Homo sapiens: one gene and its partners. The protein of the gene in region 1 purifies or fractionates together with the protein of each later gene. This does not show direct contact. Each region holds a gene or a part of one and is shown in the gene's direction. Other genes may lie near its edges.

The links.
Region 2: the proteins of KLK11 (region 1) and TUBB3 purify together in Homo sapiens (affinity purification with mass spectrometry; 3 studies listed by BioGRID and IntAct, with this or other methods). This does not show direct contact.
Region 3: the proteins of KLK11 (region 1) and LOXL2 purify together in Homo sapiens (affinity purification with mass spectrometry; 3 studies listed by BioGRID and IntAct, with this or other methods). This does not show direct contact.

The regions. Positions count from the first base shown.
Region 1 is NC_000019.10:51,024,634-51,028,380, reverse strand, and holds the start of KLK11 (kallikrein-11 isoform 1 precursor), read left to right. Parts: upstream 1-1,764; 5' UTR 1,765-1,843; exon of another isoform or gene 1,844-1,884; intron 1,885-2,238; exon of another isoform or gene 2,239-2,360; intron 2,361-2,682; exon of another isoform or gene 2,683-2,714; coding exon of another isoform or gene 2,715-2,749; coding exon 2,750-2,789; intron 2,790-3,586; coding exon 3,587-3,743; coding exon of another isoform or gene 3,744-3,747. UniProt on the Homo sapiens protein: Possible multifunctional protease. Efficiently cleaves 'bz-Phe-Arg-4-methylcoumaryl-7-amide', a kallikrein substrate, and weakly cleaves other substrates for kallikrein and trypsin. Cleaves synthetic peptides after arginine but not lysine residues.
Region 2 is NC_000016.10:89,933,342-89,936,744, forward strand, and holds the end of TUBB3 (tubulin beta-3 chain), read left to right. Parts: intron 1-126; coding exon 127-237; intron 238-1,387; coding exon 1,388-2,463; 3' UTR 2,464-2,756; downstream 2,757-3,403. UniProt on the Homo sapiens protein: Tubulin is the major constituent of microtubules, protein filaments consisting of alpha- and beta-tubulin heterodimers. Microtubules grow by the addition of GTP-tubulin dimers to the microtubule end, where a stabilizing cap forms.
Region 3 is NC_000008.11:23,397,472-23,401,218, reverse strand, and holds part of LOXL2 (lysyl oxidase homolog 2 precursor), read left to right. Parts: intron 1-3,747. UniProt on the Homo sapiens protein: Mediates the post-translational oxidative deamination of lysine residues on target proteins leading to the formation of deaminated lysine (allysine).

The DNA.
Region 1 (3,747 bases):
TCATGCCACTGCACTCCAGCCTGGGCAATAAAGTGAGACCTTGTCTCAAAAACAAAAACCCAGCAATATAAATAAGACACATGTTTCTTCATCTGGCATAATAGAAATAGTGCCCAGAGCTTATAAGCTTTTCAAGAGTCCACAAAAGACCCGAAAAAGAAAAAGAAAATTGTTAGCTCCAAAATACCAGATGAAAGCTGCAAAGTCAACATTTATGACCATTTAATCCAATGTCCATAAAACGTAGCATTCTTTCCACTAGCCAACTGCAGTTTACTTTCTTGTAATGAAGCATACATTGTATCTTTAATGTGGGACGTGGCTTTGTTCTAATAAGACGAAGGGTGGAGTGCAGGCTTGGAAAGCAGGAGAGCTCAGCCTACGTCTTTAATCCTCCTGCCCACCCCTTGGATTCTGTCTCCACTGGGACTCAAGAGGTGAGGAGAGACCATCTCCCCAAATGCACTGAAGGGAAACTGGAGGAGGGAGGGAGTGAGGGGTGATCATACCAGCGGAGGCACATTTGCTGAGCCCCCCCGCAGTCTGCTCTTTCCAAGTGGACCCTCCTGGAAGCCTGATCCCAACCTCCCCTGCAAGCAGGTCTGTCACCCCCATCTCTCAGATGAAGAAACTGAGCCTTGCAGGGGTGGAGTCCCTTGTCCCCACGTCATAAGGGTAGTCATAGTAGTAGGAAGAGGAAGCACCTAGGTTTGAGGCCAGGGCTGGCTGCTGTCAGAACCTAGGCCCTCCCCTGCCTTGCTCCACACCTGGTCAGGGGAGAGAGGGGAGGAAAGCCAAGGGAAGGGACCTAACTGAAAACAAACAAGCTGGGAGAAGCAGGAATCTGCGCTCGGGTTCCGCAGATGCAGAGGTTGAGGTGGCTGCGGGACTGGAAGTCATCGGGCAGAGGTCTCACAGCAGCCAGTAAGTGAACAGCTGGACTCGGGCTGCCTGGGCGGCAGGGAGAAGCGGGCAGGGGAAGGGTCAGCAGAGGAGCGAGGCCCCAGAGGAGCCCTGGGGTGGAGCACAGCCAAGGGCTCTGTTCCCTTTCCTGGACTCGGCTTCCACAGGCCCTGACCTGCCTCCCCCACCCTCCGGTCCTGCCCCTGTGCCTGGCAGCAGCCCCACCTGTGTGACATCCCAGCACACCCCCCCTCTCCTTGCAAAGGAGAAGGGAGCGGCCTAGGGGAGGCCAGGGGCCCACCTGGGCTGGGGCTGTGGAGAGGGAGTGGCTGGGACGGGAGGAAAAAGAGAGACGGAGATTAGATGGAAGAAGAGGGATTTCAAGACAAATTGCCAGAGATGCAGTCAGAGAGACTGACTGAGAGACACAAAGATAGAAGGAATTAGAGAAAGGGCCACACAGAGCCAGACAGAGAGAGAAGAGTGGAGATGGAGACAGGGACGAGGACAGAGAAAGGCAGACAGACACATAGGGACAGAAAGAGAAAAATCACACAAAGTCAGAATTACTGAATGACAGGGAATGACACATAGAACGAGACACAGATTCAGAGACTCAGGGCAGGGAAAGGAAGGCTGCAGACAGACAGACAGACAGAGGGAGGCTGAGACACAGGGAGAAGAGGGGCTTGGAGAGGTGGCACAGGCAGGCAGCCAGTGCCTCAGAGGCCTCCGGGGAGGGCCCTCACACACACCCCGCCCCGGGGCATTAAGGCAGGGCTTGGAGGCCAGTCATCCTGGGCCCGCCCAGGGCCGCCCCCCTGCCAGCCCGCCTGCCTGGTGCCTGGCACCTGGCGCTCCAACCCAGCCTACCTGCTGTAGCTGCCGCCACTGCCGTCTCCGCCGCCACTGGGCCCCCAGAGCCCCAGCCCCAGAGCCTGTGAGTCCAGGAGGAAAGGGAAGCTGCCCCTCCCCGTCCAGGTGTCAGCCCTCCCCAAGGACACCTGTCCCACTCGGGCACCCATTTCTCCCTCTGCTCTGTCCTTCTCTGCTTGGGTGGGGGTTCCTGGCCTCTCTCTACACCTCTCACCTCCGATGGCTGTCCGCAGCCTCAGTTACCTCTAATCTCCATGGCTTCAGCTGCTGAGCTGGCCCTCTGCTCCCACCCCCGCTGGCCAGGGCAGCGGAGGGCACTGGCCCTCCCCTCGACCAGCCCCGCCCAGCTTTGCTTGGCTGTCCTTCAAAAGGGCAGGGGTTTGGCGGACAGGGCTTCAGCAAGCCGGGTGATGGGGGTCCCAGACATTGTCTGGGGCTGAGCCCCCTACTCCCCTCCAGCAGACCTCAAAGGCTCCATATCGCTCTGCTGCGAAGACAATGAAAAAGGGGTGGCTACGGAACGGTGTCTGGTTCCCCTTGTCCTTCCACCCCAAGCTGCTGGGGCCTGGCCAGCTCTCAAGGCAAGAAGGAAAACATCCTCTGACATGTGCCGGGGAGGTCCCATGGCTGACTTGAACAGGGCCGAACCATGGCTTGACAGCTCAAAGCCCCTCCCAACGACTTCCACATGGTTCTTGGTATCTCGGAAGCTTCTAGCTGTGACCAGGCCCTCTCCAAGGCCACCCTAGACACCTAAGATATATTTTAAGTGTTTGGAGATCTGAGTGCTGTGAGAAACAGGGGATTTCCCCAACCTTGTTTCTCCCAAGTGGGGAGCGGGAGCAGGTGAGGGAGAGAGGAGAGGGCATGAGCCAGCCCCCCCCTCCCGATTTCCCCGTAAAGTGATGCGGCCCCATGTCCCTCCTTGTTCCCAGAGGAACCTGGGGCCCGCTCCTCCCCCCTCCAGGCCATGAGGATTCTGCAGTTAATCCTGCTTGCTCTGGCAACAGGTACGCAGGGGATGGGGGCAGGGCAGGATCCTCCCTCTTGAATCTCTGGGATCCCCTAACCCTCTGTGTCTGGACAGTGACAGGGCTGATTCCAAATTACAGAACAACCCATAAGGCACCTGAACTGGAGCAGTGGTCATGAGGGCCTGGATGCCCTTCTAGATAATCCCTTTAAATGCCAAAGGAGGAGAGGTCAAGGGGGTCGTAAAGGGTCCCGTGGAGGGGCTGAGGAAGCTGGAGTTGGGGGAGCAGTCACTCAAAGCGCCCAGGACAGGGGCTACTGACCAACCAGTATGGAAGTATTTCCTTTTTTTTTTTTCCCAGAGACAAAGTCTTGCTCTATTGTCCAGGCTGGAGTGCCGTGGTGCCAACACGGCTCACTGCAGTCTTGACTTCCCGGGCTTAAGTGATCCTTAAGCCATCTCAGCTTCCCCGGTAGCTGGGACCACAGGCACCTGCCACCAAGCCAGGCTAATTGTTTAATTGTTTGTAGAGATGGGGGAGGAGGTCTCACTATGTTTGCCTAGGCTGATCTAGAACTCCTGGGCTCAAGTAATCCTCCCACCTTAGCCTCTCAAAGTGCTGGGATTACAGGCATGAGCCACTGCATTTGACCTTATGGAAGTATTTTCATCCTTTAATACCCGACCCCAGCATCCAGGGCAACCCAGAGGGACACCAGACCAGGGCCCAGACCACCCACTCTCTTTCTCTCCTCCCCACCCCCATTTCTGGGAGTCCTCCTGGTCTACCACCTCTCCTTCCTGAGCCCCTTCTTTTGCTCTCACCCCCTCCAGGGCTTGTAGGGGGAGAGACCAGGATCATCAAGGGGTTCGAGTGCAAGCCTCACTCCCAGCCCTGGCAGGCAGCCCTGTTCGAGAAGACGCGGCTACTCTGTGGGGCGACGCTCATCGCCCCCAGATGGCTCCTGACAGCAGCCCACTGCCTCAAGCCGTGG
Region 2 (3,403 bases), on another chromosome or scaffold:
GACTTCAGAGTACAGGCTCTTAGGATGTGAGCAGGAGGATGGCAGGCGGGCACAGAATTCAGAAAGAATGAGGGAGAGGCTCTGGCCCTCTGTGACCCGAATCACCGAGCCCCTCTCTCCCCTCAGCTCACAAGTACGTGCCTCGAGCCATTCTGGTGGACCTGGAACCCGGAACCATGGACAGTGTCCGCTCAGGGGCCTTTGGACATCTCTTCAGGCCTGACAATTTCATCTTTGGTAAGTTCCCCCTGCTCCAAGCTCTGATGGCAGACCCCATCACAGGCAAGCCCAGGTCGGTGGACGGGGACGGCTGTGAGAAACAAGGAATGGTCAGCTCCTCACATGATCCTGAATGGTGGGAACTCATCTCTCCATTTTACAGCTGGGCATTGGAGGCCCAGAGAAAGGGTTCTGTGGGGAGAACAGAAACCACTCATGCATTTCAAGTGGAATGAAGTGTAAAGCAGACAGAAGCTTACAGAATTGCTAGAGAGCTGGTGAGACAGAACGGGGCCTCCAGAGGACTCCGGGGTCCAGGAGCACGAGGCCTTGCTGCGGTCAAGAGATCAGGACGTTCCCATGCCTGTGTCCTGGGGTTGGGCCGTGGATGCCACGTTCCCATGTCTGTGTCCTGGGGCGGGGCCGTGGATGCCACGTTCCCACGTCTGTGTCCTGGGGCGGGGCCGTGGATGCCACGTTCCCACGTCTGTGTCCTGGGGCGGGGCCGTGGATGCCACGTTCCCACGCCTGTGTCCTGGGGCGGGGCCGTGGATGCCACGTTCCCACGCCTGTGTCCTGGGGCGGGGCCGTGGATGCCACGTTCCCATGCCTGTGTCCTGGGGCGGGGCCGTGGATGCCACGTTCCCATGCCTGTGTCCTGGGGCGGGGCCGTGGATGCCACGTTCCCATGTCTGTGTCCTGGGGCGGGGCCGTGGACGCGCCACAGAAACAGGAGGGCCTCGCTTCACTTCTGCCTTCCCGACCGCAGCACATCCAGCTGGTAGATGCCAACTCGCATCCAGCCCCCAGCTGCCAGGGATTCTGGGGTGGCTGTTTGGGCTCCTGGCACTGCCAGTCGGAAGGAAGGTATGCTGGAGCAGGAGGGCTGATCCATTCACCCAGGATCCCCTCAGGAGGCAGAGCCTCGCTCTGCTGTGACCCCAAGTTCTCAAGACTCTGTCCAGAGCCCTCGTCCTGAGCACTCAGCAGCATCGGCTCAGGGAAGCCACGGCGGGTATGAGAAGGGGTGCTCAGTGGGGCCTACTTTACAGAAGACAGAACAGGCATGGGGCTGCCACGGCTGCCCTTGGGATGTTCAGGCAGGGGCTGGAGGTCTGGACTGCAGAGTCCCTGGCCCCTGTCTCTTACCCCTCTTCTCCCTGTACAGGTCAGAGTGGGGCCGGCAACAACTGGGCCAAGGGTCACTACACGGAGGGGGCGGAGCTGGTGGATTCGGTCCTGGATGTGGTGCGGAAGGAGTGTGAAAACTGCGACTGCCTGCAGGGCTTCCAGCTGACCCACTCGCTGGGGGGCGGCACGGGCTCCGGCATGGGCACGTTGCTCATCAGCAAGGTGCGTGAGGAGTATCCCGACCGCATCATGAACACCTTCAGCGTCGTGCCCTCACCCAAGGTGTCAGACACGGTGGTGGAGCCCTACAACGCCACGCTGTCCATCCACCAGCTGGTGGAGAACACGGATGAGACCTACTGCATCGACAACGAGGCGCTCTACGACATCTGCTTCCGCACCCTCAAGCTGGCCACGCCCACCTACGGGGACCTCAACCACCTGGTATCGGCCACCATGAGCGGAGTCACCACCTCCTTGCGCTTCCCGGGCCAGCTCAACGCTGACCTGCGCAAGCTGGCCGTCAACATGGTGCCCTTCCCGCGCCTGCACTTCTTCATGCCCGGCTTCGCCCCCCTCACAGCCCGGGGCAGCCAGCAGTACCGGGCCCTGACCGTGCCCGAGCTCACCCAGCAGATGTTCGATGCCAAGAACATGATGGCCGCCTGCGACCCGCGCCACGGCCGCTACCTGACGGTGGCCACCGTGTTCCGGGGCCGCATGTCCATGAAGGAGGTGGACGAGCAGATGCTGGCCATCCAGAGCAAGAACAGCAGCTACTTCGTGGAGTGGATCCCCAACAACGTGAAGGTGGCCGTGTGTGACATCCCGCCCCGCGGCCTCAAGATGTCCTCCACCTTCATCGGGAACAGCACGGCCATCCAGGAGCTGTTCAAGCGCATCTCCGAGCAGTTCACGGCCATGTTCCGGCGCAAGGCCTTCCTGCACTGGTACACGGGCGAGGGCATGGACGAGATGGAGTTCACCGAGGCCGAGAGCAACATGAACGACCTGGTGTCCGAGTACCAGCAGTACCAGGACGCCACGGCCGAGGAAGAGGGCGAGATGTACGAAGACGACGAGGAGGAGTCGGAGGCCCAGGGCCCCAAGTGAAGCTGCTCGCAGCTGGAGTGAGAGGCAGGTGGCGGCCGGGGCCGAAGCCAGCAGTGTCTAAACCCCCGGAGCCATCTTGCTGCCGACACCCTGCTTTCCCCTCGCCCTAGGGCTCCCTTGCCGCCCTCCTGCAGTATTTATGGCCTCGTCCTCCCCACCTAGGCCACGTGTGAGCTGCTCCTGTCTCTGTCTTATTGCAGCTCCAGGCCTGACGTTTTACGGTTTTGTTTTTTACTGGTTTGTGTTTATATTTTCGGGGATACTTAATAAATCTATTGCTGTCAGATACCCTTGCTTGGTGCCAGAGATGTCCTTTTATTCTGGAAAGTTGTGTCCAGTAGGTGGAGGGGCTGACAGGGAGGCCCGGGTGGACAGGCAAGAAGAGCTCATCCTCTCCCAGGCTGGCGGCTGAGAGAGGCCTGCGCTGGGGGCCGGAATGTGTCTCAAGGCACAGCCCGTGGGGAGACCCCGGAAACGGGAAGCCCGGGAGAAGGAACGGGAAGTACCTCATTCCAGACCTCAAGATGCAGCCCTCCCGACTTGGAAATAACCCCACACTCGTTCCCTGGCCTCCCACAGAGCGGCTTGCACCCCAGACTTTTCTCCCACCTGTCTGTAGGCTGAAAGTTGGGGCAGGTGGTCCCTCCTGCGGTGGAAACTGCCATCAGACCTGAAGCCTCGGGTCACAACCAGGGAGGTAGGGAAGGGGGCCCCGAGTGCTCCCTGAAAAAGACGGTGTGTTTAGTGTCTCGGGGCTGGGCCCTGGGAGGGGCTGCTGAGGTCAGGGAGATGCGGCCACAGGACGCAGGCCTGGGCTGCCGGGAGGGACGTATCAGTCCTCCCGCCCCCGGCAGCCCCTTCCTGGGGTGCATGATACTTGGTGTCCAGCCACACAGGGCATGGCCTGAGGAGCCGCTCACCTGGTTCCCCACATCCTCCT
Region 3 (3,747 bases), on another chromosome or scaffold:
TCTTACAAGGTCCCACTAAAGAGTTAGGTGAGTATTTTCAAATTCATTTCTCAGCTGAGGAAATGGATAAACAGATAAGCTGTCCAGAGGGCACAGCTGGTGACCCAGGGAGCCAGGGTCTAACCCAGCCTCCTCATGGCTGGGCTTCGGTGGTTCTGGTTCTCCATGTTACTCGTGGACTCTCAGCTGCTCTCTGAAGAGTTCTTCTTGGCTCAGGCTTCATCCTGGGCTTATCACTTCCTATACACCTGCTGTCAGAAATCCCTGTGTAAATATTAGTAATTGGACATTTGGTGCTTGAGATAAATGAACTGCAAAATCAGGAAGCCAGGGTTTGTTTCCTAGCTCATTGCAAAACTGTAAGGGCTCAGAGCTGCCCTCTCTGAACTAGAGAGCAGTGTACTTCCTCATTATTTGACTCCAAGGTGTAAAAATAGGATGAGTGAAATGACTGTTGCTGGGATTCCTGGAAGAAACAAAGGCCCCAGAAAGAAATCTAGTAGAGGACAATCTCCCCTCTCTGAGCATCACCTGAGTACTCTGACAGCTGGTACCTTCATGCTGAAGCCCTCAAATCCTATGACAGAGAAGTAGGGGTATATAGGCTTCCCATTGAAGCCCTTAGTTTATGCATGACTTTATTCTGCATTTGACCAATGAAGATATGCAACACCTGATATGGCTTGGCTGTGTCCCCACCCAAATCTCATTGTGAATTGTAGCTGTCATAATTCCCATGTGTTGTAGGAAAGACCCGATGAAAGGTAATTGAATCATGGGGGTAGATCTTTCCCCTGAGAAGTAAATCTCGTGAGATATGGTTTTATAAATGGGAGTCCCCTGTACATGCTCTCTTGCCTGCCACCATGTAAGATGTTCCTTTGCTCTTCCTTTGTCTTCTGCCATGATTGTGAGGCCTCCCCAGCCATGTGGCATTGTGAGTCCATTAAACCTCCTCCCTTTACAAAGTACCCAGTCTCGGGTATGTCTTTATTAGCAGCATGAGAACAGACTAATACAACACCAGAGCCTTCTGCTTTTAGCATTTTCATTACTTAAGTTTATTTGCTTTTGAAATGGAGCGAAGAAGAAATTTCTCCACCTTGTTAATGAGACTCATAAGTTGGAATTCTCCTTTCTTGGCAGATCATGTGGGAAAAAGGAATCTCTTGGCACAGGACTCCTAGATGTTCTGCTGTTACGCTTGTTGCTTTGAAACAGGGAATGAACAGACCTTCCATAAAATAGCCAGTTAGAGGCAGAGAAACTGGTCAACCCGATTCCATCCAACGGGAGGAACTCCGAAGTGGCAAGACATTAACCTTAAATCACCCTGCCTTCTGACGGCCATAGATTCTTTTTCCTTAGCTAATAGGCTGTCTCCATGGAGGAAGAATTTCTAGGTGATTCCACACCAGCAGCTGCAGTTGCACAAGCATGACTGCTTCCTTCATTTTAAAGTTTGGGGAGCCTTAGGAGGTGTTTTAGTCCATTTTCTGTTGCTTATAACAGAATACCTGAAACTCGGTAGTTTATTAAACAAAAGGAATTTAGTTCTTACAGTTATGGAGACTGAGAAGTCCAAAGTCCAGGAGCTGTACCTGGTGAGGGCCTTCTTGCTGGTGGGGACTTGGCAGTATCCCAAGGTGATGCAGGACCATCGTGAGGGGGCTGAGCATGATAACATGCTAGCTCAAGTCTCTTTTCCTCTTGTAAAGCCACCAATTCCCTTCCCATGATAACCGATTCATCTATTAATTGGTGAATGGATTCATCAGTTTATGAGGGCAGAGCACTCATGATTCAACCACTTCTTAAAGGCCCCACCTCTCAAAACTGCCACATTGGGGATTAAATTTCAACATGAATTTTTTGGAGGGACACCTATTCAAACCACAGCAGGAGATATGATTTCCCATTCCCAGGGGCTGCCTGGCTTTAAAAGAGCAGCTTGTTACTGTCATCGTCCATTTCCCCCTGGAGAAAGGCTTTTGTGGTCGGTCTGCATGGCAGTCACACCCTGGGTGGTCCATGAGGCCTCAGATGAAGTGGCCCGAGGCCACTCTGCTCTAGGCCCACAGACAAGGCGGGAATAGCAGTTGCAGGCTAGAAAAGGAAGGGCCAACCAGACATTCACAGAGATGCAACCAGAGCAACACACAGCTGAGTCTCTTAAGTCTTCAGTCCTGTGTAAGTTGAAGCAAGACATCAGAAATCTCTCACCTGAGTAATTCCACACATGCACCCACTGCTGTCCAATGCAGTGCTTGCTCAGCAGGGAGCACCTCTTGGCCAAGCGTATTGGCAGCCCTTCTACCGTGACCAGCGTCAGGGACGTCTCTAGGCGCCTTTTCAGAATAGCTGGCAACATAGGGAGACCCAGTCTCTACCAAAAAAAAAAAATTAGCCAGGCATGGTATAGTCCCAGCTACTCAGGAGGCTGAGGCAGGAAGATTGCTTGAGCCCAGGAGGTCAAGGCTATAGTGCATTCCAGCCTGGGTGACAGAGTGAGACCCTGTCTCAAAAACAAAGAAAGAATAGCCACTTGGTTGATGATGATAAAGGATGCTGGGGACTGTGTAGTTCAGACTTCTGTCCAGAGTTTTAACAAATCTTTTGCACTTTCTGTGGCAGAAATACTATTACCAGGCAAGTAGTGTGTGTGGCAGATGAGAACAAGAACTAACTCAGCAGATGCTGAGGTTGTGGTTAGGAACACAGTTAGTAGGTTCTTCTTGTCCAGGGCTTTTGATCCCTTCACTTGGGATACCTTAAGTATTATATTTAATTATAGTCTTCTAAGCAAAGAGTGATGTTTTCTTTTTAGTTTTTTCATTCCTACGATCCACGTCAGACAAGCAGACACAGCTGGCCCTCTGGATGTCCTGTGGCAACAGACATATCCTCCTTGATGTGTTGCCAACAAAGTGCTGAGGGTATCTTCTGCAAAAATGATGCCACTTGCCTATAAAACATACACTTACGACAAGATAACTTATGGTGATGACTTGTGAACAACTTAATTTGCAGTTTCTTTATAATATCTTTCTGGAACTTGGATCCATGAACTTCTTTTGCCCCCAGGCTTGTCCTGATATACCACTGGGGTACCAAGGTAAACACAGTATAGCTCTTCAGAGTGCCTGCATGACTCGAAGATGTAGTGAGAAAGATACTTTTCTAAATATCTTTCTAAAACAATTACAAATATAAAATTGAGTAAAGCACATTTCTTTTTTTTTTTTTTTTTTTTTTTTTGAGACAGAGTCTTACTCTGTCACCCAGGCTGGAGTGCAGTGGTGCAATCTCAGCTCACGGCAACCTCCACCTTCCAGGTTCAAGAGATTCTCCTGCCTCAGCCTCCCGAGTAGCTGGGATTACAGGCATGCACCACTATGCCCACGGAAAAGCATATTTCTTTCTTTTTTTTTTTTTTTTTTGAGACAGAGTCTTGCTCTGTTGCCCAGGCTGGGAGTGCAGTGGCGCGATCTCGGCTCACTGCAAGCTCCGCCTCCCAAGTTCACGCCATTCTCCTGCCTCAGCCTCCTGAGTAGCTGGGACCACAGGCGCCCGCCACCATACCCAGCTAATGTTTTCTATTTTTAGTAGATACAGGGTTTCACCGTGTTAGCCAGGATGGTCTCGATCTCCTGACCTCGTGATCCACCCGCCTGGGCCTCCCAAAGTGCTGGGATTACAGGCGTGAGCCACTGTGCCTGGCCGGAAAAGCATATTTCTAAAGATGAT